2 separate regions of the Homo sapiens genome follow, and region 1 is linked to region 2. The links come from fine-mapping of genetic effects on gene expression. A gene starts in region 2. The other region holds a variant in brackets. All regions are shown on one strand. Distances are between the middles of the regions. Region 1 has its middle 22 kb from the start of MFSD6. Region 2 holds the start of MFSD6 (major facilitator superfamily domain containing 6).

Evidence for each region. PIP is the estimated chance that this variant, and not a neighbour inherited with it, causes the effect.
Region 1: its variant is fine-mapped to the expression of MFSD6 in whole blood (INTERVAL, PIP above 0.99).

Annotation. Positions count from the first base shown.
Region 1 is chr2:190,378,508-190,393,962 of GRCh38, reverse strand. No RefSeq gene overlaps it. Among named protein-coding and RNA genes, the nearest start is that of MFSD6, 22 kb to the left of the region's middle. The variant C/T (reference allele first, on the strand shown) is at 8,017.
Region 2 is chr2:190,401,270-190,416,724 of GRCh38, reverse strand. It overlaps MFSD6 (major facilitator superfamily domain containing 6), which reads right to left and starts at 8,370. Exons shown (of 8, transcript NM_017694.4): 1 at 8,222-8,370; 2 at 1,312-1,433. RefSeq lists a silencer at 7,750-8,789 and an enhancer at 9,050-9,099.

The sequences.
Region 1 (15,455 bases), 23 kb after region 2:
TTTAGTAGAGACGGGGTTTCACCATATTGGCCAGGCTAGTCTCGAACTCCTAACCTTGTGATCCGCCCACCTCGGCCTCCCAAAGTACTGGGATTATAGGCTTGCCATTTCTTTTCCAATTTATAGATTAAACACAATCCCAATCAAAATCCCAGCAAGCTTATTTGTAGAGATTGACAAACTGATGCTAAAATGTACATAGAAATTCAAAGGGTCAGCTAGGTGTGGTGGCTTACACTTGTGATCCCAGCACTTTACGAGGCTGAGGCAGGAGGACTGCTGAAGTCCAGGAGTTTGAGACCAGCCTGGGCAACATAGGGAGACCCTGTCTCCACAAAAAACTTTAAAAATTAGCTGGGCATGGTAGCATGCACCTGTAGTTCCAGCTACTCTGGAAACTGAGGTAGGAAGATTGCTTGAACCTGGGAGGTTGAGGCTGCAGTGAGCTGTGATCGCTATACTGCACTCCAGCCTGGGTGACGAGCGAGATCCTAACAAAAAAAAGAAAAAAGGAATTCAAATGTTCTAGAATATTCAAAGAAACTTTGAAAAAGGTCAAAGTTGGAGGACATACACTGCCCAAATTCAAAACTTATTATAACCTACAGTAATCAAGATACTGTAATATTACTATAAAGACAATCAAAGAGATCAATGGAATAGAACAGGGAGTCCAGATATCAGACTTACAAATATATATGGTCAATTGATTTTCAACAGAGCTACCAACGCAATTCAATAGAGAAAGATAATGTTTTCAACATAAGTGCTGGGACAAATGGATATTCTTATTTAAAAAGTAAAGCTCAATTTTACCTCATGCCATATATGAAAATTAACTGAGAGCTGGAGCAGTGACATGTGCCTGTAATCTCAGCTACCTGGGAGGCTGAGCTGGGAGGATTGCTTGAGCCCTGTAATTTGAGACCAGCCTGGGCAACATAGCAAGACCCCTATCTAAAAAATTGTGCAAAAAAATTATTGACCTAAATATAATAGCTGAAACCATCAGATTCCCAGAAGAAAACACAGGGGAAAACTTGTTACCTTTGTCAAGCTTTCTTAAATAGGATATAAAAACACAAAAGTATGAAAAGAAAATAATCAATACATTGGACTTCATCAGCATTAAGAATGTTTGCTTTTCAAAATACAGTGTTATAAAAATGAAAAGGCAAGGCACAAAAAGGGAGAAATTAGTTTTAAACATATATCCAACAAATGACTTTTATGTAGAATATGTAAGAACTCTCACAACTCAACAGTAATAAGACAAACAACAAATTTTATTCTTTTGTTTAAAAATGAACAAAATTTTTTCAAATTCACATGAAGACGTATATGATTGTACATAGCAACTTTATTTGTAATAGCCAAAAACTGGGAACAAGTCAAATGTCCATCAACATGTGAATGGATAAGCAAATTGTATATTCATACAGTAGAATACTACTTAGCAATAAAAAGACACTTTACCAAAGAAAACATATTGATGGCAAATAAGCACATGAAAAGTTGTTCATTATCAGTGGTCATTAGAGCAGTATTTTAAACTGGGCACAATTTTGCCTCTACATGCCAGATACATTTGGCAGTGTCTGGAGATACATTTGGCAGTGTCCCCTCCCCACAAAGAATTGTTTGGTCCAAAATGTCAATAGTGATAAAGGTAAGAAACCTACATTAGGGAAACATGTCAAAACCACAGTGAGATACCGGTACATATGAAGAAGAATAGGTGAATAAAGAAATAGGTAAATAAAAAGCAGCATACCAAGTGATGAAGAGAATGTGGAACAAATGGAACCTCAGACAAAGCTGGTGATTCTACCACTTTGGAAAATAATTTGGCAGTTTCTTGAAAAGTTAATCATAAATCTACCCCAGCTATTCCACTCCCAGGTATATCCCCAAGAGAAATGAAGGCATATGTTCACATGAAGACATGTATGAATGTACATAGCAACTTTATTTGTAATAGCCAAAAACTAGAAACAAGCCAAATGTCCACCAACATGTGAATGGATAAGCAAATTGTATATTCATACAGTATAATACTCAGAAATAAAAAGAACAAGCTACTGATGAGTGCATTAACGAATAAACAAACACACACAGATGAATATAAAAATAGTTATCATCAGTGGAGAAAGCCAGACACCACTACATCCCAAAAAAGAGTCCGGTATAATTCCATTTATAAAACTCTAGAAAATGCAAACTCATCTGTAGGAACAGAAAACAGATCAGTGGTTCCCCAGGAATGGAGGTCAGGGTAGAGTAGGGAGGGGAAAGAGAGAAAAATTACGAAGGGGCATGAGGAAATTTTGGAGCATCATAGATATGTTCCTTACCTTGATTGTGGTGATTGTTTCAGGGGTAAAACTTACCAAGTTGTATACTTTATGTGCAGTTTATGGTATGTCAACTGTAATTCAGTACAGCTGGTGGGGGGCTTGACTCGTGTTTTGTTTGAGTAAAATCATCCCATTTTCTCCTTGTCACTACTGACTGGACCATATCTTTTTTATAAGCCAAGCACAACTCCACCCATGCCAGGGGAGGAGGCTGACACCTGTAGTCCCAGTAACTTGGGAGGCTGAGGTGGGAGGATTGCTTGAGCCCAGGAGTTTGAAGCTGCAGTGAGCCGTGATCGTGCCATTGCACTTCAGCCTGGGTGACAGAGCAAGATGCTGACTCTAAAAAGAAAACCTCTGTCCAGTAGGAGTGCCACATGTTGAATGCTACCAAAGGACCCAAGATATCATACAGCAAATTAGGAAATTTTCCTTCCTTGCTAGATAAGGTTACAGTTTATTTTTCATGACAAGCTCTCATTACTAAGGATAATCGGTGCATGTTAAGGAGCCAGAAAACTGTACCTACTTAAACTCATCTTCCACATTCTTCCAGAACTTCTAGCCAATGCAAAGAAAATAAAATATGGATTATACATGTTGGAAAGGAAGAAACAAAATTATTTGTGCTATTTGATTATATATCTAGAACATTCAGGAGAACCAAACTGAAAAATTATTAAAATTAATAGATTTCTATAACATAGCAAGGCACAAGATTAATATATAGAATTCAGTATTTCCTAAATATTATTTTAAAACAAACACTGTAGGTGTGGGATGGGGAGAAATGACACCATTTGGAATAACAAGAAAATCTTCACTATCTGGTCACTTTCTCTAGATATTTTCTAGTTTTTCTGTATCCCTCTCAAAGTGTTATATTGGCAATAAACTAAAATGTATTTATTATTATTTCTTTCTGGAGAACCTATTGCTGTGATATCCAGAGTGTCACCATTTCCTATCGATTCAGCATAATACACTGGTTTCTTTTCCATTCAGGAAATCACATAGAACAATGTTCTATATGCCATAAGCTATGGCTTGATTCATCTTACCATTTGGTTGTCTGGGAATTTACTGAGTTACTTTAAACTTAAATGATCCTTCTTCAAACTAGATATTTTGCTATATGATAGTAGACTTATATAATTCAGGAGGAGCTGTGTAGGTAAAACAATATCTTAATAATTGCAGATTTAACAATAAGGAAACAGATATTTGTATACTCACTGACTTGTACAAATAGCAAATAGAATTTGGATGTTTTTACTGCATGATATTTTAAAATATATATCAACATAAAAGCCTGAAACAATTAAAAATGCTTTGATTACTTAAAATCAAATAACATTTATTATTAAAAATATAACAACTGTTCATGGTGAGACCATTAGTCTGAGGGCACTGAGTCCCCTCACTGTGCACAGATTACTCAACTTTTCTAGGTCTGAGAGGCTGTAATATAAAATAAATAAGCTGGGAATTGGTATCTGAAAGGTCTCTTCAGCTAAAAATTTTACTATTCTCCATAATCTGTATAAATCAAGTGTTTTCATCTTCTTGGTTTTAAAATATTTTGCAGTAAATAAAGTTTCCCTTCAAAGCAAAAAGCCCTGAGTGGTAAACATAAGTTTTGTGTTGTTGCTATTGTTGAAAATTTGACTGTTAATAGCAACATTTTTCTGTGTATCCTATATTAAAAATATTATGATATGGCACATAGAGAATGTAAAAGGAACCATATTCCATCCTCACTCAGCTTGATTGAAAGTTGACACTCTACTAAGTTTAATGTTGCCAAAATCAAATAGAAATAAAGTTTCCATCCTTAAATACCAACACATTTTTTTCAAAATTTATTTTTATTTTTTTGAGACAGGGTCTTGCTCTGTCACCCAGCCTAGAGTGCGATGGCATGATCACGGCCACTGCTAACTACAGCCTCGACCTCTCAGGCTCAAGTGATTTCTTTACCTCAGCCTCCTGAGTGCTGCAACCGCAGCTGCATGCCACCATGCCTGGCTAATTTTTTTATTTTTATTTTTTGTAGAGACGGGGACTCCCTATGTTGCCCAGACTGGTCTTGAACTCCTGGGCTCAATCAAGCATTCTTCCCGCCTGGCTTCCCAAAATGCTGGGATTACAGGCATGAGCCACTGTACCTGGCCCCAAGGCATCATTTTTTATCATTGATAATAAATAAGTAATGAAATATCAATAATTGAGCAATTATTCAGTTAATTATTAGGCACCCAAAGTTCTGGTACAGTCCTTATTGAAATGGGGTGATACAGAGCACAGAAAGAATACGCCATGATATTAAGGAAATTGCAGTTTCAGCAGAGAAATAAATAGATAAATAAATATGTTTAAAGCATATTCCAGGCCGGGAGTGGTGGCTCATGCCTGTAATTCCAGCACTTTGGGAGGCTGAGGCAGGTGGATCACAAGGTCAGGAGTTCGAGACCAGCCTGGCCAATATGGTGAAACCCCGTCTCTACTAAAAATACAAAAAAAAAATTAGCCAGGCATGGTGGTGCATGCCTGTAATCCCAGCTACTCGGGAGGCTGAGGCAGGAGAATTGCTTGAACTAGGGAGGCGGAGGTTGCAGTGAGCTGAGATCACGCCACTGCACTCCAGCCTGGGCAACAGGGTGAGACTCCATCTCAAAAAAATAAATAAATAAAAATAAAAATAAAGCATATTCCAGGAATGTTTATTTGGGGGAAAGTACATATCAGTATTCAAGTAATCCCCCTTAAAATATTCTTGCATAATACCACATGTAATACTCCTTTGAAGATAACTAGATATAGGAAACTCTCTCCAGTGTCTTAACATTCACGTCAAATAATTCTGGTCATATTCATTCACTCAATTATTAATTCAACTAATATTTACCAAGTATCTACTTTGTGATTTACACTGTTCTAAGTGCTGGGAACACAGCCATATATAAAACAGACAAGGTCTCTACTCTCATCAAGTTTATATTCCAGAGAATATATATAACTTGTAGCCCAAATGTTACTTTTTTCTAAATGAAATGTTGTATCAACTTTTATATCACTGTTTTCCCTAGTTATAAAAGTAATTCTTGCTTATTGCAAACAAACAACAACCATAATAGAGAAAATGAAGATACTTTTGTAGGCCCTCCCTTTGGCATAATTACTGTGAGTAGTTTGTTGTATATACTTAGATTTTTAAAAATATTTTTTAAATTTACAAACTGGATCACTCTTCTATAAATTGCTTTTTTCACTTAGCAACACAGTATACCATGTATATCTTTTCATCCCAATGCATCTAGATCTAACTCCTCTTTCTTATTGGCTGTATAATATAGCATTATATTTAGACATTTTATTTCAACCATTCTTCTATCGATGATCATCAAGGTTATTTCCTGTTTCTTCATTATGATTAGTGCTCAGTATTTTGCTTAAAAAATCTTTACCTAGCCCAAGACATTTGCAAATTCATATTGAGGGACTTAGAGACAGAGAAAGAGAACTCCTGCTTGCAGCTGCCTCACTGGCCTGGTGAGACAGAAATTGGAGTTTAGGGACTTTGAGCAGCCAACATCGAAGGGCTTCAGATCTCAGAGAAAAGGGGAATGTAGAGCAGGAGCTTGGTGCTCTGCCTGCAGTTTCACTGCCTACCTGTTATTCTTTCAAATCCTTTTTTGTGGGGGATGGGGTCGAGCAGGAAGAAGGCCTTGAATGCCAAGCTAAAGCCTAGGAGCTAGCAGAAAGTCACCAGAGTTATTAGGGAAACAAGGGCCTAAGAATCAGTTCTACAATGTTGGCATTGGAAGGGCCTCTTGTGACTATCTTACTAATGAAGAGACTGTAACACAGAGAGTTGTGCCCCACCTACAGCCATATATCATCCACGGCAGCAGAACCCCTAATGTAGGCTTCCTTAAACGACTGCCGATGCTCAAAGCCCTGCTGGCAGTGGGTGTGTGTGTCTTAGTATGTTTCTGCTGCTATAACAAAATACCTAACACCAGGTAATTTGCAAAAAAGAAAATTTATTTCTCACAGTTTTGGAAGCTGAGAATTTCAAGATCAAGGCACCAGTAGATTTGGTGTCTGGTGAGGGTGGTGCTCTGTTTCCAAGATGGTGCTTTGTTGCTGCATCCTCACATGGAGGAAGATAGAAGGGCAAAAAGGCAAAAAGGGCCTACCTGGTTTCCTTGAGCCCTTGACTTTTTTTTTTTGAGATGGAATCTCACTGTGTCACCTAGGCTGGAGTGCAGTGGTGAGATCGTGGCTCACTGCAACCTCTGCCTCCCGGGTTCAAGCGATTCTCCTACCTCAGCCTCCCGAATAGCTGGGATTACAGGTGCGTGCCACCACACCTGGCTAATTTTTGTATTTTAATAGAGACAGGGTCTCACCAGGTTGGCCAAGCTAGTCTCGAACTCCTGACCTCAAATGATCCACCCGCTTTGGCCTCCGAAAGTGCTGGGATTACAGGCATGAGCCACCGCACCTGGCTCCTTGACTCCTTTTCTGAGGGCACTAATCCCACTCATGAGGGCAGAGCTATCATAACTCCTTAAAACCTCTTAAAAACCCTGCCTCTTAATATTGTCACTTTGGGGTTTAAGTTCCAACATATGAATTTTGGAGGGACGCATACATTCAGACTGTAGCAGTGTACTAGCATGGGTCAGAGGCAAGAAGAGGTCTTGCCAAAGTGGTGATGTGGAAGTTGAAATGAAGAAAAAATGTTGAAAGTCAGGAAATGGGGAGAGAGCAGGGAGAAAGCCCCTACATGAGAACAGAACTTCAGAATTTTTCCTCAGGGAAGAATATAAAGGGGAGATCTATGATCAGAAAACCATAATACTGGAGTCTAACTGGGAGCCAGGGTGAGGGGGAGAGGGAAGATGATTACTTTGGGACCTGTTGTGTTCCATGGACTGGCAAGACATGGAGGTGGAAATGGCCAGTGGGCAGTTGGAAATGTGGGTTTGGAGTTGAAAAGAGAGATTAGGGCTTTTTCCTATTCCAATTTATGCCTTCCTTCCTTTCTTCCTTTTATAAATTTGGGGATCAAATATATAGTCATAGTTGAAGCTGCAGAAATAGATGGTATCTTTAGGTGAAAATGCATAAAGAATGTATATATTTTTAAGTATACATATTAGGCCTGGCATAGTGACTCACGCCTGTAATCCCAGCACTTTGGGTGGCTGAGGTAGGTGGATCACCTGAAGTAAGGGGTTCAACACCAGCCTGGCCAACATGGCGAAACACTATCTCTACTACAAAATATAAAAATTAGCCAGGCATGTTAATGTGTACCTGTAATCCCAGCTACTCAGGAGGCTGAGGCATGAGAATCGCTTGAACCCAGGAGGCAGAGGTTGCAGTGAGCCGAGGTCACGCCACTGCACTCCAGCCTGGGCAACAGAGCGAGACACTGTCTCAAAAAATAAAATAAAATAAAATAAAATAAAATAAAATAAAATAAAATAAAATAAAATAAAATAAAATAAAATAAAATAAAATAAAAGTATACATATTTGAATTTTACAGCTGGGAGTGGAAGCTCATGCCTGTAATCCCAGCACTTTGGGAGGCCGAAGCAGGCGGATTGCTTGAGCCAAGGAGTTCAAGACCCGCCTGGCCAACA[C/T]GGCGAAACCTCATCTCTACAAAAAATATTTAAAAATTAGTGAGGTGTGGTGGCATGCACCTGTAGTCCCAGGTACTTGGGATGCTGAGGTGGGAGGATTGCTTGAGGCTACAATGATTACATCACTGTTCTCCAGCCTGGGTGACAGAGCAAGACACTGTCTCAAAAATAATTTTATACTTAAAAAATTTAATATAGGGTATCTGATTCATCATGAATACTAGATATCACGGCTGGAATCCCAGAAAAAAAGGTCATCTAGATTTTACTTAAATGTGTCTAATATCTGTAGGATTAACAGCAGTTAGAATGTGGCTCATTGTGTGGCTGGACAGCTCAAATCCTTCGAAAGCTTCTTGAAGTTCAAACTTCTATTGAGTTCACACTTCTCTATAATGTTTCTCACTGACTGTAAAATACAACTATTTAAACTTTTTTCTACTTTGCATCATAAAATCATACAAGTCAAGTAACACAGTGGCCTTCACTAATTACATACAATTGGCCAACTAATCTCATCAGCATATGATTAGTTCTAAAGAAAGCAATAGAGTATTAAAACAACCTGATTTACCTTTTTTACGTATTAGATTTTGAAAGACTGATATCATCTAGTGTTGGCAAGGATATAAGTAACGAGCATTCTCATCCTCTGTTGATGAGAGGTTGTTTTGTTTTGCTGCTATGTTGTCCAGGCTGGTAACTCCTGGGTTCAAGTGATCCTCTTGCCTCAGCCTCCCAAAGTGCTGAGATTACAAGCATGAGTCACCACACCCGACTGATGAAGGGTTAATTGGTGTACCTTTTCTAGAGGGCCCTTTGTCAATAGGTACCCACATTTAAAATGTACATATTTGATCTAGCAGTTTTACCTCTAAACATTTATCTTGGCCAGGCACAGTGGCTCATGCCTGTAATCCCAGCACTTTGGAAGGCCAAGGCAGGCATATCACCTGAGGTCAAGAGTTTCAGACCAGACTGGCCAACACAGTGAAACCTCGTCTCTACTAAAAATACAAAAATTAGCTGGGCATGGTGGCAGTCACCTGTAATTGCAGCTACTTGGGAGGCTGAGGCAGGAGAATCGCCTGAACCCTGGAGTCGGAGGTTGCAGTGAGCCAAGATTGTGCCACTGCACTCCAGCCTGGGCGACAGAGCAAGACTCCATCTCAAAAAACAAAAACACAAATAAAAACATTTATCTTAATGAAACAGAGAATTGTTCAAGTATGTACATTATCAAGCATGTTCATTGGCTCTTTATTTCTTGTAAACTTTTGAATTGATTTAATTATTCTTCTAGACACAAGTCCTTCATCAGATATGTATTACAAATATCTTCTGCCATTCTGTGGTTTGAATCTTTATTCTTTTACTCATAGAAGAAAAACAATTCTAGGAACATTGGCTAAAATGTTCTCAGTAGCTATGCTTGAATGTTGGATTTTTCTCCTCCTTTTTACTTCTCCATATTTTTCCAGTTTTTTAAGGATTATTTAATGACAATTTAAAACACAATAAAGGGAACGAATTGGTTAAGGAAGATGGTTTATTTAAAATGATGCAAGCTGGGCGCCGTGGCTCATGCCTGTAATCCCAGCACTTTGGGAGGCCAAAGTGGGTGGGTCACTTGAGATCAGGAGTTCGAGACCAGCCTTGCCAACATGGTGAAACCCCGTCTCTACTAAAAATACAAAAATTAACCGGATGTGGTGGTGGGCACCTGTAATTCCAGCTACACGGGAGGCTGAAGCAGGAGAGTCTCTTGAACCTGGGAGGTGGCAGTTGCAGTGAGCCAACAGAGATCACACCACTGCACTCTAGCGTGGGCAACAGACCAAGACTTTGTCTCAAAAAAAAAAAAAAAAGGGTCGGGCGTGGTGGCTTACACCTGTGTAGTCCCATCATTTTGGGAGGCCGAGGCAGGCAGATCACAAGGTCAAGAGATCGAGACCATCCTGGCCAACATGGTGAAACCTCTTCTCTACTAAAAATACACAAAAAATTAGCCGGGCATGGTGGCACGTGCCTGTAGTCCCAGCTACTCGGGAGGCTGAGGCAGAGAATCACTTGAACCTGGGAGGTGGCAGTTGCAGTGAGCCAACAGAGATCACACCACTGCACTCTAGCGGGGGCAACAGACCAAGACTTTGTCTCAAAAAAAAAAAAAAGGGTCGGGCGTGGTGGCTTACACCTGTGTAGTCCCATCATTTTGGGAGGCCGAGGCAGGCAGATCACAAGGTCAAGAGATCGAGACCATCCTGGCCAACATGGTGAAACCTCTTCTCTACTAAAAATACACAAAAAATTAGCCGGGCATGGTGGCACGTGCCTGTAGTCCCAGCTACTCGGGAGGCTGAGGCAGAGAATCACTTGAACCTGGGAGGTGGAGGTTGCAGTGAGCCCAGATCACACCACTGCACTCCAGCCTGGGTGACAGAGTGAGACTCTGTCTCAAAAAAAAAAAGAAGAAAAAAAAAATGCCGGGCGCGGTCTCACACCTATAATCCTTGCACTTTGGGAAGCCTACGTGGGTGGACTGCCTGAACTCAGGAGTTCCAGACCAGCCTGGTCAACTTGGTGAAACCCAATCTCTACTAAAAATACAAAAAATTAGCCGGGCGTGGTAGCTCTTGGCTATAGTCCTAGCTACTTGGGAGGCTGAGGCAGAGGAGAACCACTTGAACCCAGGAGGCAGAGATTGCAGTGAGCAGGGATCCTGCCACTGCATTCCAGCCTGGACGACAAAGCCAGACTGTCTCAAAAACAAAAACAAAAAAACATGATGCAGTTAAAAAGTGACCCATTGAAGAAGTTAGCCAAGACAAGATGTTTGCCACAATTTGCCTTTAATGTTGCATCTGCACCTGCACAAATCTGCTAGAGACACCTGGTGGAGAGTGTTGATAGGTTTACAGCAAGTGTTAGAATGTGCTGAATGTACTTGCTTACTTACAAGATGAGAAATGTACTAATGCACATCCTGGTTCCCTTATTAACTCAGCTTTCAAATAACTGGAAAGAGCCTTCAGATGGGGCAAGCCTAGCTTGCAAGTGGGCTGTGTTTGGGCCTCACTAGCAAATATGACAAAAATTTAGATAGAACAAAAGACAGTAAATTCAGAAGTAGAACTGGGACTTATTTGGGGCTGGCTACATAATTTGTGAGACCTAGTATAAAATGAAAATGTGGGGCTCCTTGTTCAAAAAGTAGGGAGAAAAGTATCCTTACAGGCACATAAAGGAAAAAGAGTTTTACTCTCTTCCATGGTCTCTCTCAACTTGACATGGTTTTTGGGTTTTGGGAGTTTTGTTGTTTTGTGTTTGTTTGTTGCTGTTTGATATCATTATAGATAAAGAAAAATAACAATTTTAATGATTAGTCTGAACTTTAATATTCATGTTTACCTCATGCAATGCCAATTTTTCTTTTTTTCTCTCTCTCTTCTTGCTCTGTCGCCCAGGCTGGAGTGCAGTGGTGCCATGTTGACTCACTGCAACCTCTGCCTCCCAGGCTCAAGTGATCCTCCCACTTCAAACTTCTGAATAGCTGGGACTACCGGCATATACCATCACGCCCAGCTAATTTTGTATTTTTAGTAAAGATGGGTTTTGCCATGTTGACCAGGCTGGTCTCCAACTCCTGACTGCAAGTGATCCACCCGCCTCGCCCTCCCAAAGTGCTGGGGTTACAGGTATGAGCCACCGTGCCCAGCCCAATGCCAGTTTTAAATGCAGATTGGAGAGTATTTAACTCATATGTGGTATCACCAAAATTACATAAATCATTTTTCACAGTTCACACATGAATATATATATTGTTCTTACCATAACAGTGAAAACATTGCAGGAAACTAACTCAACTCTTTTTATTTCACTTCTTGATACCCCGGCATTCTACCAGCCCTCCCTACCTTCAGCTTACTGGCAAGGAACTGAAAAGGAAAGGAACTATGTGTGGTCCTATCTTTACCTTTCCTTTTGTGCCATCATTTCAGCCTATGTGATTGGCTAATATAGGAAAATAGCACAAATAAGAAAGGACATGGGAGGTTTCCTTAGTTTTCCTGTTTCTTAGAATGCCATTGCCTTGTTTTTGCTTTGGAAGCAGGTTCTGGTTCTGGGAACTGTCAGTGCCCCCACTTGCTCAGTCATCAGCAATGTAATGCACTTACCATGCACTTGCTTTGAGTCTCATTGAACCCCCATACAACATAGGTCCACAAGAATTCTGTGCTCACAGGTGCTGTGAACCCTATGTGACCAGAACTGCAAGGGGACGAAGCACACACATTTTGTACATTTCTCCTCCTATTTGGTATGGCTACAATAAGAAGATGATCAAAGTATGATTTCAGGAATCACATGGTTTATTGCCATACAAAGAGATTCTTTTTTTTAATGCTCAAAGAGGGGGGAAATAACAAGAACAAATCTCGCAGAGATTATACTCCGCAGATGAGGTACATTATCCACATAATTAGTTATAATTTCATTTCAAGTCCAGTGATTACAGTTTAGTTGCTTAGAATGGAAGTAGGCCTCTGTGGATGTGAGGGAGATCCGAGACAACTTGTAAGATCCCTGGACACTAGCAAGTGGTGCCAGTGCTGTGTGGGCTGGCGAGGCTTTGAAAGCTAGCTCAAAGGCTGACAGAGATTAGCCCTGTTGCAGCCTGAGCTCTCAATCTGTCTGCCAAAATCTTGGGTTTATATGTGTTTTGGAGTCTAGTCGTTGAGGCCAATAACTCACATATGTGGTCTGGAAAAGTGTGATGTAACATTCTGACAGGGAAGGGGACTATGCTCCATGTTCTTATCACAGCAAAACATCTGTCACTTAACGCAGAAAGTGTTTGGAATATTTTCAGAGCTACGTAACACCTCCATTCATGCACATGCTCCATTGCCCCTCCATTCACTTACAAAACTTATGAATTTGAAGGTAAAATTTTTAAGAACTTCAACATGGCAATAGCAGAACCAAGCATGGCACATTTTTGAGGGTGGAGCTTTGTGAGCCGGCACAGGTCATAAGACCATATAGCCAGCCCAGGACTGGTTTGCTTTTTGCAAATGGGTAAAGGGAGAAAGCTCTTAATCCTACATGTTCAAGGCTCCTTTAAGATGAGGAACTTTGAAAATACAGGCTAGAAAAGAAAAATCATATTTAGAATTATAGGCATTTTGTTAGAGCCAGAACTTGGGCTAGCCTTGAGTATCAGATAGAAATAATAAATACATAAAACCTGTTTTGGCTGGGCGCGTTGGCCCATGCCTGTAATCCCAACACTTTGGGAGGCTGAGGCGGGTGGATCACCTGAGATCAGAAGTTCAAGACCAGCCTGACCAACATGGTGAAACCCTGTCTCTACTAAAAATACAAAAATTAGCCAAGTGTGGTGGCGCATGCCTGTAATCCCAGCTACTCTGGAGGCTGAGTCAGGAGAATCACTTGAACCCAGGAGGCAGAGGTTGCAGTGAGCCAAGATCATGGCATTGCACTCCAGCCTGGGCAACAAGAGCGAAACTCCATCTGAAAAAAACAAACAAACAAACAAACAAAAAACCTTTTTTAAAGGTGTCCATGATCAAAACAGCCGCTCCATCAGACCAGTTTCAAAGGTCTATTTGCATGCATACCCAGGCTTTGAGTTCCCTGGCATTTTAGGAGGACATTTGCAGTTACTTAAGTTTGCTTTAGAAACATGTTTTTCAACCTACCTGCCAACCCAGGTACAATTAGAGCTGCTCAGCATGAATGGTAAAGGTAACAACTTACTGTTTATGCTCTCTTTTTGCATTTAGCACTTAAAGAAAAACATAAAGAAGAAAACTTGGAAATAGGAAGAAAAATGTAGAAAATGTTTGTTTGTTTCTTTCCCATTTGGGCAAACAGCAAATGTGTGCCTCCGTATTTTATCTTTTCTGCCATGGGATGGGCAGTGCTGTTTTTGGTACAGTAGGGGTGTTTAAAGGCTGATGAAAATAACAGCATACTCCGGGCTGTGAATATGAGGCCAGGAGTCATGCCCAGTTTGTGGCCTGCGCTGAGTGTACAGACTCCTTAAGTGGAATGGCTCAGCAGAGTGTATGTACACAGTAGAGATGTGACATAAGCTCGTCTGCATTCTGAGCACTCAACACACAGAGGCAGAAGGTGTGGTTGGAGAGGAGGGGTCAGCAGGCGTCCAGGCGAGTTGCCAGGGTCAAGATTCTCAGCGATTTCTCATAGGTCTCATGAGAGGAATAACTGTACTTGCATTTCTCTTTTATTTCCATTATGCTTTTGTTGCTAGGAAGTTCCTTTTCCTTATCATCTTGATGAATGCACATATTTAGGGCACTTTTAATTCTTTGGGAGATGAAGTGGATAAATGCATCATAAGTAGATAAGTCAATGTGGGTAAGAGTTTAAATTATCGGGCTATGAATGTCATGAGACCTCAGTGATAAGTCCAAGGGATGTAATCAGAGGGTAAAAGCTGGGACAGCTCAGTTGTGGTGAGTGATAGAGATTGCTAGTTGTCCTCAAATGCCTGTTTCCTGGGTGCTAAAACTCCTAGTTTTTGGCTGCGTACATGGCTTCTGAGAATGGAAGCTTCCCTTGTAGCCGCGTGTACTCATGTGACAAGGTTCTGGCCAAAGGAATGAAAAATCATTCACCCTTTTCTTGTTCTTTGTCTTTCCCTCTATCTTGCTGCCCAAAATGCAGATCCTGTTGTCACAGTCTGGAGATGGGAGAGCAGTGAGATGGAAGGAGCGTGAGTTCCTGAGGACTTTAGGATAGAGCCGCCTTTCAGCTCTGGACGCACTTACCACTCCATTTCCCTTAAGCGAGGGAGAAATCACTTCTATCTTACTTAGGCCATTGTTATTTTGTCATTTCTGCCTCTCCTAGATAAGCCTATTGGTTACTGATACAGAGTATTACTGCAGACTTATTCTTGCTGGACTTCCTCCGAACACAGGGCTCCCTTAGGGACCTGTGTTCATTGAGGTTCAATAGTTTGTTTTTCATACTCCAATCATTTTAACACAGCAGAAAACCCTTTACGAAAATACTCATGCCTTGGCACTTCACAATCTCATGCCAGGAGCCTGTTACAAAAGGGGTCAGGAGCCACAGCAAAAGATTGGCAACTGATACCCAGTACAATGATCTTCAGACTCTACTGAGTGTAGGACCCAGTCCTTAGGAACAGTTGGGCTGAGTCAGAGATGATGCTAAGTAGAAGCAGATGGCTGGCGGAGTAACAGGCAAAAGGAAGTGTAGAAAATGTATTAAAGGCTGGGCGCGGTGGCTCACGCCTGTAATCCCAACACTCTAGGAGGCAGAGGCGGGCGGATCACGAGGTCAGGAGATGGAGACCATCCTGGCTAACACAGGTGAAACCCCGTCTCTACTAAAAATACAAAAAATTAGCCGGGCGTGGTGGC
Region 2 (15,455 bases):
ACATATGAACATTTGGTGTTGCTGGTAGTTGTAGTTTTATTCCAGATATTTCATTAAAACTCTGGGTCTTATTTTGCAATTATGCCAAAAGCACTTTTCCCAGAATTATTTGGCACCACCCTTGAACTAGGCTAGTATTTCATCCATCTGTGCTCATGAATTTATGTTCATGTCTGTTTTCATGTCTACAGCCTGATGGGGGCCTGTGAGGCACTGGTTCACTGGAGAACACACTATTGTAATATGGACTGGAATGATAATTCATTATCTCCAGGAAAGAAATAACTATTCACTTAAAATAAAATATTCTGTAGAAACATTTTACTTATATTTGTAACATCATAAATCTGAAAGAAAGGACCTGAAATCCTCTCTAACATTTCCTTTCAACTTGCTAACAGGGTGAAAAAGGAACAAATTATTTTGATCTCTTAAGGGTTGGAGGAAATAGCTTATAACCATAAAGATGACTTTAGTAATAAAGACCAACTAGATTTTCACTTTCACTTTGTGGAAGAAAATAATCAAATGTCAATTAAAAATTTATAATTTAGGTTCCTCAGACCTTATCAGCCATCATGAAGCAGATTCCTACTTATTAGTTTTAGACTCCTGATTAAATATTGTGCCAATATAGCATAATTTATAATATAAATTTGAAGCAGGCCCCAGAACTTCATTTCCTTCTACCTTTCAAATAAGCTTCCTGTCTTAGAACAAGCCCAGCGGGAGGAAAAAGTAACAGTTCACATTACAGAGCTATTCTAACACTATTAGACACTGAGGAAGTTAAGAGGGTTAAATAAAGCACAATCTATACACGAGACAAGGCAGTTTAAACAGAAATGTATGGGTGCTTCTTTCTCAGACCTTTTATGAGTTTACAATTGAGACCAGAATATAGATCTCAAGGTTTATAATACATTTTCCTATAGCCCTGGACTATCATCAGTTATTTTTACTTACATCCCCTAAATGTGCTATAGTCTAAAAGAATAATTTATATCCTTAGTACCTTCCCATATATGTAATCTAAAATTGTTTTATTTTGCTGTTAGGGTTCTGATAACTTGAGAATTACCATAAGCTATCAATTCTAATGATATAATTAGTTTCAGAAAAAGGTTTATTACTTAGCCCATAAAATAAAAAAGTGGCTGAGCACAGTGGCTCACATCCGTAATCCCAGCACTTTGGGAGACAGAGGCGGGAGGATCACTTGAAGCCAGGAGTTTAAGACCAGCATGGGCAACAAAGCAAGATCCCATGTCTACAATTTTTTTTTAATGAGTCAGGCATGGTGGTTCATACCTGTAGTTCTAGCTATTCAGGAGGCCAAGGCAGGAGAATCACTTGAGCCCAGGGGTTCAAGGCTGCAGTGAGCTAGGATCACGCCACTGCACTCCGGCCTGGGTAACTGAGAGAGATCCTGTCTGTAAATAAATAAAAATAAAAAAGATAGATACTTTAACATACATACCATACCAATAATTTTTAAAATGGAAATATTCAATGCTGGTGAGTATGAGAATTGACAGGCATTGTCATTCACTGAGAGTAAAAACATAAACTTTCTGAAAAGCAAAGACTTAAATGTAAAGATTTTTATTGCAACACTTTTCACAACAATCACAACTGAAACAAAGTAAGTGATCAATAATAAGGACAGTTAAATAAGTTATGGTGAAAATAGGTAAATAAGCTATAGAGAAAAATAAAATCTTATATCCATATCATGGGAAAATAGAACTTAACTACATGGTAAAATGCATCATGTTAAATGAAAGAGCAGGACACAAACCTCTCGATATAGTACAGTTTATATTTGTAAATCTATGTAGCTCAAATAAAATGTATTTTAGAAAAAGACTCGATAAAAATGACACCAAAGTGTTATCAGGGATTATCTCTGAGTAGTAAAATTAGGACTTATTTAATTTTTTTCTTATACTTGGCTGGATTTTTAAAAAATCATTATTTATCACTTTAAAAATACATATTTAAAAAGGAATTATTTTAAATATAAAACATTTGAGTGACAATTAGGATGTCCTTGTTCCCGGAGTTCCTGAAAAATTATAGAGTTATTAAATTGAGGTCTGATCATTCATCTAATGCCTTGTGCTTCCCAGTATACGGAATTGAAAGGGACTGTCACAAGGACTTTGAGACACTCTTAAAAGATATGCACACCTTTTACAGGGAGCCTCATTACACAGAAAATAAAATTGAAATGTGTCATGTTTACTCATTCAAAAGAATCATAATAAAGTCTTTTATTTAAACTCCCTTATAAATGTGAATTGGGGCATATTTGTTCATTAGTTAAACACAATTGCACAGGCATGATTTTGAAATAGAATTAAGAAAGGCACTCCATAATAGCTAAAGAAGCTTGCCTTTGCTGGATTGGAGCACGTTAATCAAGAACACAGCGCTTCTTTATTTTATGTTCCAGGACACATGTGCAGGACATGTGGGTTTGTTACATAGGCAAACGTGTGCCATGGTGGTTTGCAGCACCTACCAACCCATCATCTAGGTATTAAGCCCCACATGCATTAGTTATTTATCCTGATGCTCTCCCTCCCCCTGCCACCCAACCCCCCAGACAGGCCCCAGGAACACAGTACTTCTTAAAAGTCATAGGCAGCATGCATGTCACTTTGTATGATTCTGCTTTATGTGTTTGGTGTGGTGCCTTCCTCCTTTGCTCTACCTTGAGCCAAGTACCTTGAGGCCAAGTATGTTCTACCTTAACTTTGTCCCTAAAAGTGCCCTGAACAGTTAAGAATTCCCAGCGTGACTCACAGGGACCCACTCCTGCCACTGCTCCAGTGCTCAGTTTCTCCTGGAATCCTGGGCCCTGACTGCCATGTCTCCTCTTCACCCCACAGTATAGCAGGGCTCATGGTACATTGGTTTATTGGAGCTCAGAGAGAGCAGGCCCCGTGCAGAGTGGAGTGCACCTGCCTGTGGAACAAGGTCTCTCTACATAACCAACACAGACTGCTAACTACCAGTCCAGGCTCGCCACTCACTTTCCTTTGGCACGGTTAACCCACACATCGGGCTTGTTCAGGCAGCACCAGTTCCTCCTTTTTATCCTCCTCAAAGCCACACACCAGAGCTCACTCTGCCCACTGCTGATTCATAGTGTCCCTGTCTTTCCCTGTCTTTCCCCCATCCCACTCTTGGTCTCAGATCAAAATGCTTCCAAACATTTCCTCAGAGTCATTCAGAGCTGGCCTTTCCTGTTTTGTACTTGCCAAATGTTTCCTGAATTGGTCTCCCATTCTAAAACATGCCCCACAACAAATGTCAAAGAAAGACATCTCTGCCCCCCTTAATTCAATTTTTTTCCACATCTCTTGAACATGGTTTTTTAAGGGTCTGAATTTCTTCCCATCTTTGCCCTATTCTCCCCCATTCTACCCCGCCCCTCCCATCCTAAAATGCAGCAGGACCACCAGGTCACAAGGTAATACAGAACTCTCACTCACATCTCTTCAACATAATCATCAACACGTGGCTCAGCTAGATTTACATCATAATGGATCAAGGCAGGGAGAGGCTACTTTGAATACATACAACATTGGGATGTAGTTTTTGTTGGTGCTGAGGTAGAGGTGGGGGTTTGGGAGGGTGTGCTCTTTTTAAAGCCATAACATAGCAACCAGTAACTATAGCAGACACATATTAACATATAGGCTCAAGGTTTAGGTGTTCCACGTTTGTAATTATTTATTATTTGGTTGGCTTTTCTGTTTTGGCCCCTGCACCAAACATCACTTGTCTGAACAAATGACTGGTAGATTCCAAAAGTTGCCCAGCCAACTTGAGACAATGCCATTTTGCAAAAACAGTAAATAAATATCATCCAAATGTGGGCAATCAAAAACAGCTACAAAGCAAATGTTACTGAATCCAGCAGTGGGGCTAAGTACTGGATAACGTATCATTCAGAATTTAGGAAAACAAATCAGGCTGACACAAGCCCCTCTCACCCCCAAAATGCCAGTAGAGTAAATGGGAACAGACAGCTAATGTTGGATAATTAAACATGGAGGAATTATAAACTCAAAGGAAATGTTCTTGGTGGAGGCATTAAGGTGTTTTCATTGCCCCACACAGAATTGACATCAGATGTGTTTGTTTGCTTTTCCCAGGAATCAAAAATGCTATGCCCAAGGAAATGCCATGTTAGTTGAGTTTGAGGAAGAAATTTTACCCAAACTGGCCTTGTAGTAGGGTAGGACTTTGCACTTGATTTCTGCCTTTAAAGATAACCTATTGAACAAAGTTTCCTAAATTAAAAGATGGAGATTTCCTTCTGCCTAAAACATAATTAGAACCCAAAATGAAATGTTGGATAATACCTAAAATTGTGAGAATATCTCTTCTGTAAAATACTTTTACAATTCCCTCTTTCTCAAGATTACCTACTACCACAATGATAATTAACCAAGTTTAAGCATGTGTTTTCTTGATTCTGAAAAGTCTGAATGTATTATGGCTCTGGATTTCTAAGTCTGGAAATGTATTAATTTTTAAGGATTCTAAGCAGTGGTTTTAGTTAATTTTACATAGAATTGGATAGAACTATGGGACTGTATTTAACAAGTACATATGCATCAGATTAGTTTAACTTTATGATAACTTGCTTCTCCTAAATTGTTACTAAAAATAATTATACCTAAAGTCATCCAGAATGCCATAATTTCATGAGATGACACAGCAGGTAAATTGGTTTCTCCAACTCCTACCTTCTACCAGATTGTTCTGTACAGAACAATCATGCTTCCAAAGACAGCCACCACTAGCAAGACCAGGAAGAAAGAAATTCTTATCACCCCTAATCAAGCAGATAAATTGTGTATGCTCCAAAGCATTCTTATTGAGGAGGAAAACTGAGGAGTTGTAGAATATGCTACAGTTACTATTAGAAAAAGTAAAAGCCAGTCACCTGAGACTCTTTACCCTTTGCCCCCCAATTCTCAGTATGCCACCTTTCACTTTGATCTCCTGAGTCTCATTTCACTTCCCTAACATTAGAGTTTAGGCACATTCAATTTTATCTTACTTTGGATTGTTATAAAATCAATTAATTCTAGTCTTCTTTTGTTTTCCTTTTTAGTTTATATAATAAGAGAACACATGCTTGTTCCAAAAACAAAATTTTAAGCCCAAACATAACTTTATAAGGTAAAAAGCAAAAACATCCTCTTTTCTCCATCTTGTCTCACTTCCTGAAGATAGCCACTGTCGGCTGGGCGCAGTGGCTCATGCCTGTAATCCCAGCACTTTGGGAGGCCTAGGCAGGGGAATCATGAGGTCAGGAGATGGAGACCATCCTGGCCAACATGATGAAACCCCGTCTCTACTAAAAAAATAAAAATTAGCTGAGCCTGGTGGCATGTGCCTGTAATCCCAGCTACTCGGGAGGCTGAGGCAGGAGAATAGTTTGAACCCAGGAGGCAGAGGTTGCAGTAGGCCGAGATCGAGCCACTGCACTCCAGCCTGGTGACAGAGCGAGACTCTGTCTGAAAAAAAAAAAAAAAAACTACTGTCAACAGTTTGGGGACAAAAAGGCGTATGTGTGCCTGTATGCAGGTTTAAACAAATGTATATAAATTTCTTCTGAAGCTAGTTTTTTTTTTTCTTTTTTTTGAGATAGAGTCTCGCTCTGTTGCCCAGGCTGGAGTGCAGTGGCGCGATCTCGGCTCACTGCAACCTCCACCTCCCGGATTCAAGCAATTCTCTACCTCAGCCCCCTGAGTAGCTGGGATTCCAGGCGCCCGCCACCACGCTCAGCTAATTTTTGTATTTTTATTACAGGTGGGATTTCACCATCTTGGCCAGGCTGGTCTTGAACTCCTGACTTCGTGATCCACCTGCCTCGGCCTCCCAAAGTGCTGGGATTACAGGCATGAGCCACCTTGCCCAGCCATTTTTTTCATTTAATATACAGCATCTTGATTTTTCAGCCAATGTGCAAAATAGCTAGCAGACACACATTTTTTGCATTTCTTCCTTTCCCTATAATGAGATTGCCAAATTAAGATTTGCTGTCAAAGGAAGTAAAACAAAGAAACCTGTCAGCTTCATACTGCCTTCAATCTACAACTGGTGAGGACAAAAGGGTAAACATACACACATTAATATACATACGTAATAAATATATAAATTATCCTACATGGCTAAATGTTAACATAAGTAATACATGTACATTGAAATCAAGTTAATTTTCAAAGGCACGAAGCTAAGGAAGACATCTGCGTAGGTGGAGAGACTTAATAGGTTCTGATTAGGGAGGGACACCATGTGGAAATTTCCTGGGCTTTGGAGCCAGAAACATGAGGTCAAATTTAACTCTACCTCTTACTGATTATGTGGTTTGTGTAAGTTGCTTAACCCTTCTGAGCTTCCTTTTTGTCATGCACAGAACTAGGGGAAAGATTTATCTTACAGAGATTGAGATACTAAATGTTTACAATGGTGTCTTGAACATAATAAGTACCCAAAAAAATGCCTTAATACTGTTAATAGTCCAGACACTATATATGATGGAATTGGTGATCCAATACTCACACCACCAAATACCTGTGAACTCTGCTTTTTGTCTTTGTGTTTTATTTGCCTTCACGCTTTTATATTTATTTGTATAGAGATGGAAAGTGCCTTAGAAATAAACTGCTGTAAACATGAAGGACACACAACTACTTAGTAGCTTTAATGCATTATTGAAGTGATGTTCTCTCCTCCTGTTTCCCCAGAGCATCCTGCACTGGGCTCATTAACAATGTCCCATCCTTCCCCTAAGCAATCCTAAATTTTACTTACACCTCGTGATAAATACAAGCCATCTGACTATCACTAAACAGCTGACCATATCCTGCACCTCTGCTAGCAGCTTGACGTGTCAAAAGCCAAGCTTCCCAAAGAGGAGGATCCTATCCTTTTACTTAACAAGGCTAAAACAGATGCATACACTTTTAGCTGGCTAGTGCCCACATCTTGGGGAAAGGACCTACCAAGTACACATCTCCTTTTATTACATATTTTAGTCAACTGTATGTCCACCCACCCTTCACATTCATCTATACTTAAGAGGTTAGATTTCTAGAAAATCATGGACTTCTAGAAGGATTAGGGGAAATTTTGGCCACTATAATATCCAACCATCCTCTTTTCCATGTGAGAAAACTGGGGCTCAGGAAGATGTGACATGCCCAAGCACACACATCTATTTAAATACCAGTTGGGATTAGAACCCCAACTCTTTAAGTCTTTTGCACACTAATAAGCAAGGTATTATATGTTCCAGTAGTTCTGTGAGGTGCTTATTCAATCTTTTTGGGATGAAAAGAAACGTCCGTGGTTGCGAATGCATAAAGGTAATTAACCCACCTGTCTGTCCATGTGGGGATGGGATTAACGAGGGGGAAAGTTGCGTTTGTATTTTTCCACCATCTTACCTAAATTTGCAGGAAAATTGCTCTATGGGCAATAAATATGACCCAGAAAGACTAGCAACCCCCAGTAGTATCTCAAAAGGGCTCCAGAGACATGTTAGACCAAGTGGAAGTAAAGCACGAGGTGGGGGATGTCTGCTAGGATGGTGGCTGGCAGAGCAGAGGTATTTTTTTTTCCGTATTTATTAACCTGGGAGGGCAGACGTTGTCAATTTCCTCCTCCTGCCACACAAGTGGCCGCGTCCTTGTCACTGGGGCTGTGTGGAGGTTCTCACCTCCTCCTTTTTCCCAGGGATGTTTATGGCGAGGGCGCGGGTCGGCCCGGGCGGAGGAGGACCCGGGCATCGGCGCTCACCCTCCGTCCCCACCCGCGGCAGCAGCTGTGGGCGCCCGGCGAGGGCTCCCTGGGCAGCGCCTTTGTTTTCCCGACTCCAGTTACGTTTGCGGAAGTGCTGCCAGCACGGGGCGCGCTGGGGGCGCAGGCGGCAGCCTCCCCCAGCACCCCACAAAGATGACACCCGACACGGAAGCCGGGGGAGGGAGGGAGGGAGGGAGCGGCGGGCGAGCGAGGCCCGAGCGGAGACAGCGGCGCACGCTGGGCTCCGAGCCCCGGCCCCGAAGCCCCTTTCCCGGCAGCAGGTGTGCGCGGCTGAGGTGCCTACCCGCCCTCCGGCTGGGCCCGTGCGGGGCGGGGGAGGCCAGGGCGGGTCTGCGAGCCCCTTCTCCGCAAGCCGGGCCCGACTCACCTGCTGCGGCGGCGGCAGCGCTCAGCTGCGCGGGGCGCGGGGAGCCCTGTCCCCGGAGCACGGGGCGGCGGCTCGGGGCGCCGGGGCGGCGGCTGTCGGGGCAGCGCGCACCATCCCGGGCTGCTCGCGCGCTCCTCCGGGGCTGCGACGGGCTGGGCGGGGCGCGGCGAGGCGAGGCGAGGGATGCGGACCGGGTGGGGCCACGGAGGACGGAGGCGGAGGGCCCAGCGCTCCCGCCGGCGCGACCTTCTCTCCCGCTGCGGCTCCTCCTCCTCCCCGGCCCCGGCCTCACAGTCGCCGCCGCCGGTCACTACCGGCTGGACCCGTTTCAGGGCCGGGCGCTGAGGACCGGCCGCCAGGTGCAGCGCTCCGCCTCCTGCGGCGGCGGCGGATGCGTCGACTGCCCGCTCCCGGCCTCCAGCCCGCCCCGGCGGCCCGGAGGGACACCTGAACCCAGCCGGGCCCGGGGAGCACGCTGAGGAGGCGAAAGCACTGGGCGAGGCTCCATCCCTACCGCACCCTCCACCCCCCCGCACCCCCAAGCGACTTCCGCTGAGCCCCCAGGCAATGAGTGCGGGCCAGGAAATGTGGGGGAAAATGTACTAACATCCCTTATTCCTTGAGCGCCTTTTAAGTGGCACACACAATGCTAATGCTGTCAGTGCGTTATCTCCGCGTCTGTCCCAGGTTGACCCGGGAGGGAGGAGCCGGCGGGGTGCGGGAGACAAACGATCTGTGAGTTTCGGGGCTCACCAAGAAGGGGGAACACTGAGACGAAGGCACCCTTTTTCAGGAAGCTGCTACTGGCATCTTGCTGAAAAGCCAACCGTGTGTGTCGCACTAAGAATATAATTAAAGTTGTATTTCTAGTTAAACACGCAGAGAGTTGGGGGAGAGTGGAGTATTCACTTGGCAAGTATGTCTGTGTGCCTGTGATGGGCTTTGGGGGATGCCACATCCTGTTCTTAAGGAGTTTATTGTCTTGTTCTGGCAACAACGACAAGAGTGACAATGGTAGCTAACGGCAACAACGACAAGAGTGACAATGGTAGCTAACGCTTATAAACATCGATTATGTACGGGGCACTGTGTAGGTACTCTTTGAGCCTTATAACCCTATAGGTGTAGGAAACGTTATTCCCATTTTACAACTGAGGAAAGCCGAGGCTGAAAGTTAATGTGACCCATCCAAAGTTACTAAACAGCGAAAGGGAAAGCAGGCTTCTTTTGTCTCCAGGCTTTAAGCTCTTAACCGTGAAATCATACTGGTAAGAATTTGATAGGCCCTGAAGTTTCTGAATTTTGAGTCCCTCTTTAGGAAGAATAAAACAATTACAAATACGAAGTTTCTAGGGCCCCTTCCTGAGCTTATGAAGGGTCTCTGAAGCTTAAACTATAGTAGCCTCATGCTAAATCCACTTTCAATATTGACGTAGATATTCAATCATTTCTTTCTCCAGGCATTTCTTTCTCCTGTCAGGAACACGAGACACTGGTCCCCTCCTTGAAACTCTTCCCTTCTCTTCTTTTGGTGCTCCGTAAGTGTTGGATTTTCCTCCTTGAAACTCTCCCCTCCTCTGCCTTCTGTGACCCACAAGTCTTGGGTTTTCCTCTTCCTCTCTGGCCACTCCCCTTTGCTCCACTTGAGTTTTAGTTTTCCTTGGGTTTTGTTCTAGGCTTTCCTTTCTTCTGATTCTGTTTGTTTCTGCGAATTCTCTCACTCCTTGGCTTCAATCACAGAATATTTGAGGGTGCTCCAAAAGCCCTCTCTCGGGGTCAGCTTTTCTCCTGAGGGCCAGATCCTTATGGCCAGTTGTCCAGTGGGATGTGTCACAGGCACCCCAACCTCACTAAGTGCCACGTCAATGTTTCTTTACCTTCTGTTCTTCCCCTACTCGTTTTTTTTTTTTAAGATGGAGTCTCACTCTGTCGCCCAGGCCGGATTGCAGTGGCGTGATCTCAGCTCACTGCAACCTCTGCCTCCCGGGTTCAAGTGATTCTCCTACCTCAGCCTCCTGAATAGCTGGGATTACAGGCATGTGCCACCATGTCTGGCTAATTTTTGTATTTTTAGTAGAGATGGGGTCTCACCGTGTTGGCCAAGCTGGTCTCAAACTCCTGACCTCAAATGATCCCCCCACTTCAGCCTCCCAAAGTACTGGGATTACAGGTGTGAGCCACTGCACCCGGCCCCTCATTCACTCTTGCTTCTGGGTTCCCAGACTCTGGGGTCCCAAACAGCCATCCACCCAGTTGTACAAGGCCCTTCTTCTCAATGCTCCTTTCACCCTTATACCCATGCCCAGTGTATTAGTTACCTATTGCTGCTGTAACAAGTTATCGTAAACTTTGTGGATTAAAACACACATTTATTATCTTACGATTCTGGAGGTCAAGAGTCCAAAATGGGTTTTAGTGAACTAAAACCAAGGTGACTACAAGGCTGTATTCTTTCTGTAGGCTGTAGAGAATAACCCATTTCTTTTACCTTTTCCACTTCTAGGGGCTGCTCACATACTTTGGCTCATGGACCCTTCCTCCATCTTCAAAGCACACCACTCTAACCTCAGCCACAATCCTCACATTGCCTTTTCTGACTCTGACCCTCATTACATTGGGTTCACCTTCATCATCTAGCGTAATCTCCTCCTTTCAAGAATCTTAATCCCATCATCAAAGTCCCTTTTACCATGAAGCATATTCACAGGCTCCTGGGATTGAGACATGGACATCTACAGCGGGCCATGACTCTGTCTATGACATCCAGTCAGATGCCAAACTCTTGATTCTACCTTTTCAAATATCTCTAGCACCTGTCCTCTTCTCTCCATCCCTGTGCTATCCTAATCTCTGTTATCTCTCCTTTGCCTGCAAAATTTCTCTGGTCTCTCTGCCTCAAAATGTTCTCTCATCCAATCAACTTTTCACTTTGCCACCAAAGTAATCTGTTTTCTTTTCTTTTCTTTTCGACAGGATCTTGCTCTGTCACTCAGGCTGGAGTGCAGTGGTGTGATCATAGCTTACTGTAACCTCGAACTCCTGGGCTCAAGGGATCCTCACACCTCAGCCTCCCAGGTAGCTGGGACTACAGGTGCATACCACCATACCCAGCCAATTTTTAATTTTTTTTGTACAGGTGGAGTCTCACTATGTTTTAGGAGAGGAGCAATGTTGGCTGGTTGCACAGCTAGGAGGTACAATACAATGTGAAGGGTGCCTCATGGTGTTGCACAATCCTATGAGACAGCAAAGAAATTACATGGTAAGGTGTTTGTAAAGATTCTTTTGGTGTTGGGCGTAGTGGCTCATGCGTGTAATCCCAACACTTTGGGAGGCCAAGGTGGGCGAATCACTTGAGCCCAGGAGTTTGAGACTAACCTGGGCAACATGGCAAACCTCATCTCTCAAAAAGTACAAAGATTAGCCAGGTGTGGTGGCATGCCTATAGTCCCAGCTACTAGGGAGGCTAAGGTAGGAAGATTGACAGAGCCCGAGAGGTCAATCTCCCAACCTTAGCAGTGAGCCATGATTACACCTCTGTACCCCAACCTGGGTGACAGAGTGAGACCCTGTCTCAAAGAAAAAAAAAAAAAAGTAACTGTAACCAGTAGCAAGGAGAAAGGTTAACAGTGGCATGGACCACAGTGGTAGTGGCTGGGATGGAGAGAAACAGATAGATTTGAGAGTTTGGGGAAGTATATGAGCATACTTGGTGATATGTTGCATGTGGGAGGCAAGGGAAAGGAGGTGTTAAGAATGACTCACAGGTTTCTGGCTTGAGCAACTAGGGAAGATTGTGATAACCTTTACTGAGAGGGAGGAGACTGTGGGAGGAGCAGGCTGGAAGGAAAAAAGGAAGAATTCACATTTGACTCAGTGAGTTTGAGATGCTTGTGAGCCTTGCAGGTGGAGCTGTGAAGTAGGCAATTAAACTTGAGTCCACAGCCCAGAAGAAAGGGCTGGATTTGGCAGTCATCAGTATTGAGGTACTATTTACAGTCATTGGACTGAAGGGGATTACTCAGGAAGAGAATAGACTCAGAGAGCCCAGAGAAGGGCCAACATTTACCAGTTGGTATAGGAGAGAAAACCAGGAAGGATCAGTCAGAAGTAGAAGGCAATTCAGGAGGATGTTGTCACTGAAGACTATAGAAGAGTTGTTTCAAGCAGGTGTAAGTGGTTTGCACTCTCTCTCTCCTCCATATCCTAGACAAAGCATTATGTCCTCCATAGACTGGCTTTATCGCCCCTCGGTGGCTTCGTTTACCATGTGCCTTCTCTATCATGGCATCTATCATATACTATTGTAATCATTTGTTTAACTTCTATGCTAGATTGCAAGCTCCTTAAAGACAGGGGGAAACACTATGTTGTTCAACATTTGTATTATTTAGCATGGACAGTAGTCCATTGGAACAGCCCACATACAGTGGTTTAAATTTTTTTAAAAAGTATGATTTTCCCTCATATAAAAGTTTAGGTAAACATATGTAACAAACCTGCACATCCTGCACATGTACCCTGGAACTTAAAAAATCATAAAATTAAAAAGTTTAGGTAAATAAGTGAGCCCATGGTGTTGGGACTCGAGATTTATGCTCTTTTGATCTTGTTGCTCTGTCATCAAAACCCAACATGGCTGCCCCAACTCTTACTCTCATGTGCACATTCCAGCCATTGCAAAAGGGAAAAGGGGAAGGGGAAGGCATTTTCCTTTCTTTTAAGAATATGGGCCGGGCGCAGTGGCTCATGCTTGTAATCCCAGCACTTTGGGAGGCCGAGACGGGTGGATCACCTGAGGTCAGGGGTTCAAGACCAGCCTGGCCAACGTGGTGAAAACCCGTCTCTACTAAAAATACAAAAAATTAGCCAAGCATGGTGCAATTGCCTGTAATCCCAGCTACTTGGGAGGCTGAGGCAGGAGAATCACTTGAACGCAGCAGGTGGAGGTTGCAATGAGCTGAGATCGCACCACTGCACTCTAGCCTTGGCAACAAGAGCGAAACTCCTTCTCAAAAAAAAAAAAAGAAGAAGAAAAAGAACATGACCAGAAGTTGTACATATGTACATATTACTCGTTTAAATTCCAGTAGCAGAACTTGCTCATATGACCACATCTATCTGCAAGGAAAGCTGAGAAATCTAGTCTTTAACTCAGTATCCATGTACACAGATAAAAATTCTATGACTGTGAAAGAAGAGAACAGACACTGGGTGCAACCAGCAGCCCTGATATACCATTGTAACTGTATCATAGAGCCTGACTGTTGGAATATGCTTGTAGAGCATAGAGAAAGGCAAGGAAGGATAAACACCCCACTCTTGACATTAATTACCTTGCGGGGAGGAAATGGAAGGGGCATGGAAGGAGAGTTATAAATTATTTGTTGACTGAATGGATGATAATAAATGGATAAATCCAATGGTGACAGTAGTGATGAGGTGAATTCTTTTTAGCTCCCTCTCCCACCCTCCCTCCTCAGCATTGGCTTATGAAGGAAGAGGGACTTTCACTAGACCAAAAAGATGAGTTATGTAAACAGAAGGAAAGAAGGCTAATTTATTTAAATCTTTTATTCTGATATCTTTTTTGCTTAATTCTCTTGAGTTTTCTAGGTGGGTGATCATATTAAACTACAAACAATGATACTTTAGTCTCCTTTCCAATATTTATATCTATATTTAAAATCTTACTATGTTGACAAAATAATAGTAAATATTGGTGATGATCAACAATTGTTCCTTTTCTTACTACTTTCTTTACTACAAATATCTCTATTGCTTTGCCACTGAGTATGAGGCTGGCTATTGTTTTGACATAGCTATTTTTCACTAGGTTAATCAAGAATCTTTCTATATATGGTTTAATACAATCTTTAAAAATTAATAATACATATTTGAATATCATTTCCTTCATGTACTCTCTAAGATTTTTTTTTCTTGTTCATTCCCAATCCAGTTCCACATTATGTGGTGTTTATTGTCTACTATTTATGTACTTAAATGGCAATAAATCTACTTTAGTGAGGCAGAGAGTTAGGCCCTGGATATAGAAGTATAAAATCAGGTCCCTTCCATCAAGAGGCTTGTGATTTACTAACAGGGACATGTCTACAAATAGATCAGTTATAATTAACATAATTATAATAGCAGGCAACATATGCTATGAGTGGTACGCAGATTAACTTTTCAAAAATATCTCTTCTACCGTGTTCCTCCTCCCCTAAGAAAAATCCATTTGGTCCCTATGGCTTAAAGCAGATAGTCCAAAATCTTTAATCATCTTCAATCAAACACTAAGTTCTGCCCATTGTATCCTCTCAGCATTGCTATGTTTCACCTACCCTATCCCTATACACACCACTCCAACTCAGGACCTAATGCAGCTGTCTCCATAGTGGCTTCCCTGTTTCCAGCCTTGCACCTATCTAATAGTAAGCAAGGCACTTCAAATGTATCTCAGTTATGTGGTTTTAAAAAAAACAAATTATATTTTAATTTTTAAAATTTTTTATTAGAGTATAACATACATACAAAAAAGTACACAGATCATAAGAGTACAACTGAGTTACAATAAATATAATAAAAACTGTGTAATCACCACTAATTGCAAAAAACTGAACATTACTAGCACTCCACAAGATCCCCTTGTGACCTTTACAAATTACTACCTCTTTCTTTCTCCCCAAAGGTAACCACCATTCTGATTTCTAACCCCACAGGGTAGTTTTGCCTGTTTTTGAACTTTATATAAGTGGAATCAAAGAGTATAAAATCTTTTGTGTTTGATTTCTTTTTTTTTTTTTTTAATTAGAGACAGGGTCTTGCTATGTTGCCCAGACTAGTCTTGAACTCCTGAGCTCAAATGATTCTCCTGCCTTGGCCTTCCACAGTACTGGGATTACAGGCGTGAGCTGCCACACCTGGCCTTGTGTTTGATTTCTGGTATAGTTTAGATGTCCCCACCCAAATCTCATGTCGAAATGTAATCCCTAGTGTGGAAGGTGGGGCTATTGGGAGGTGTTTGGGTCATGGGGGTGGATTCCTCATGACTTGGTGCTGTCCTTGTGATACTGAGTTCTCTCAAAATCTGGTTGTTGGCCAGGCACGGTGGCTCACACCTGTAATCCCAGCACTTTGGGAGGCTGAGGTGGGTGGATCACGAGGTCAGGAATTCAAGACCAGCCTGGCCAACATGGTGAAACACCATCTCTACTAAAAGTACAAAAATTAG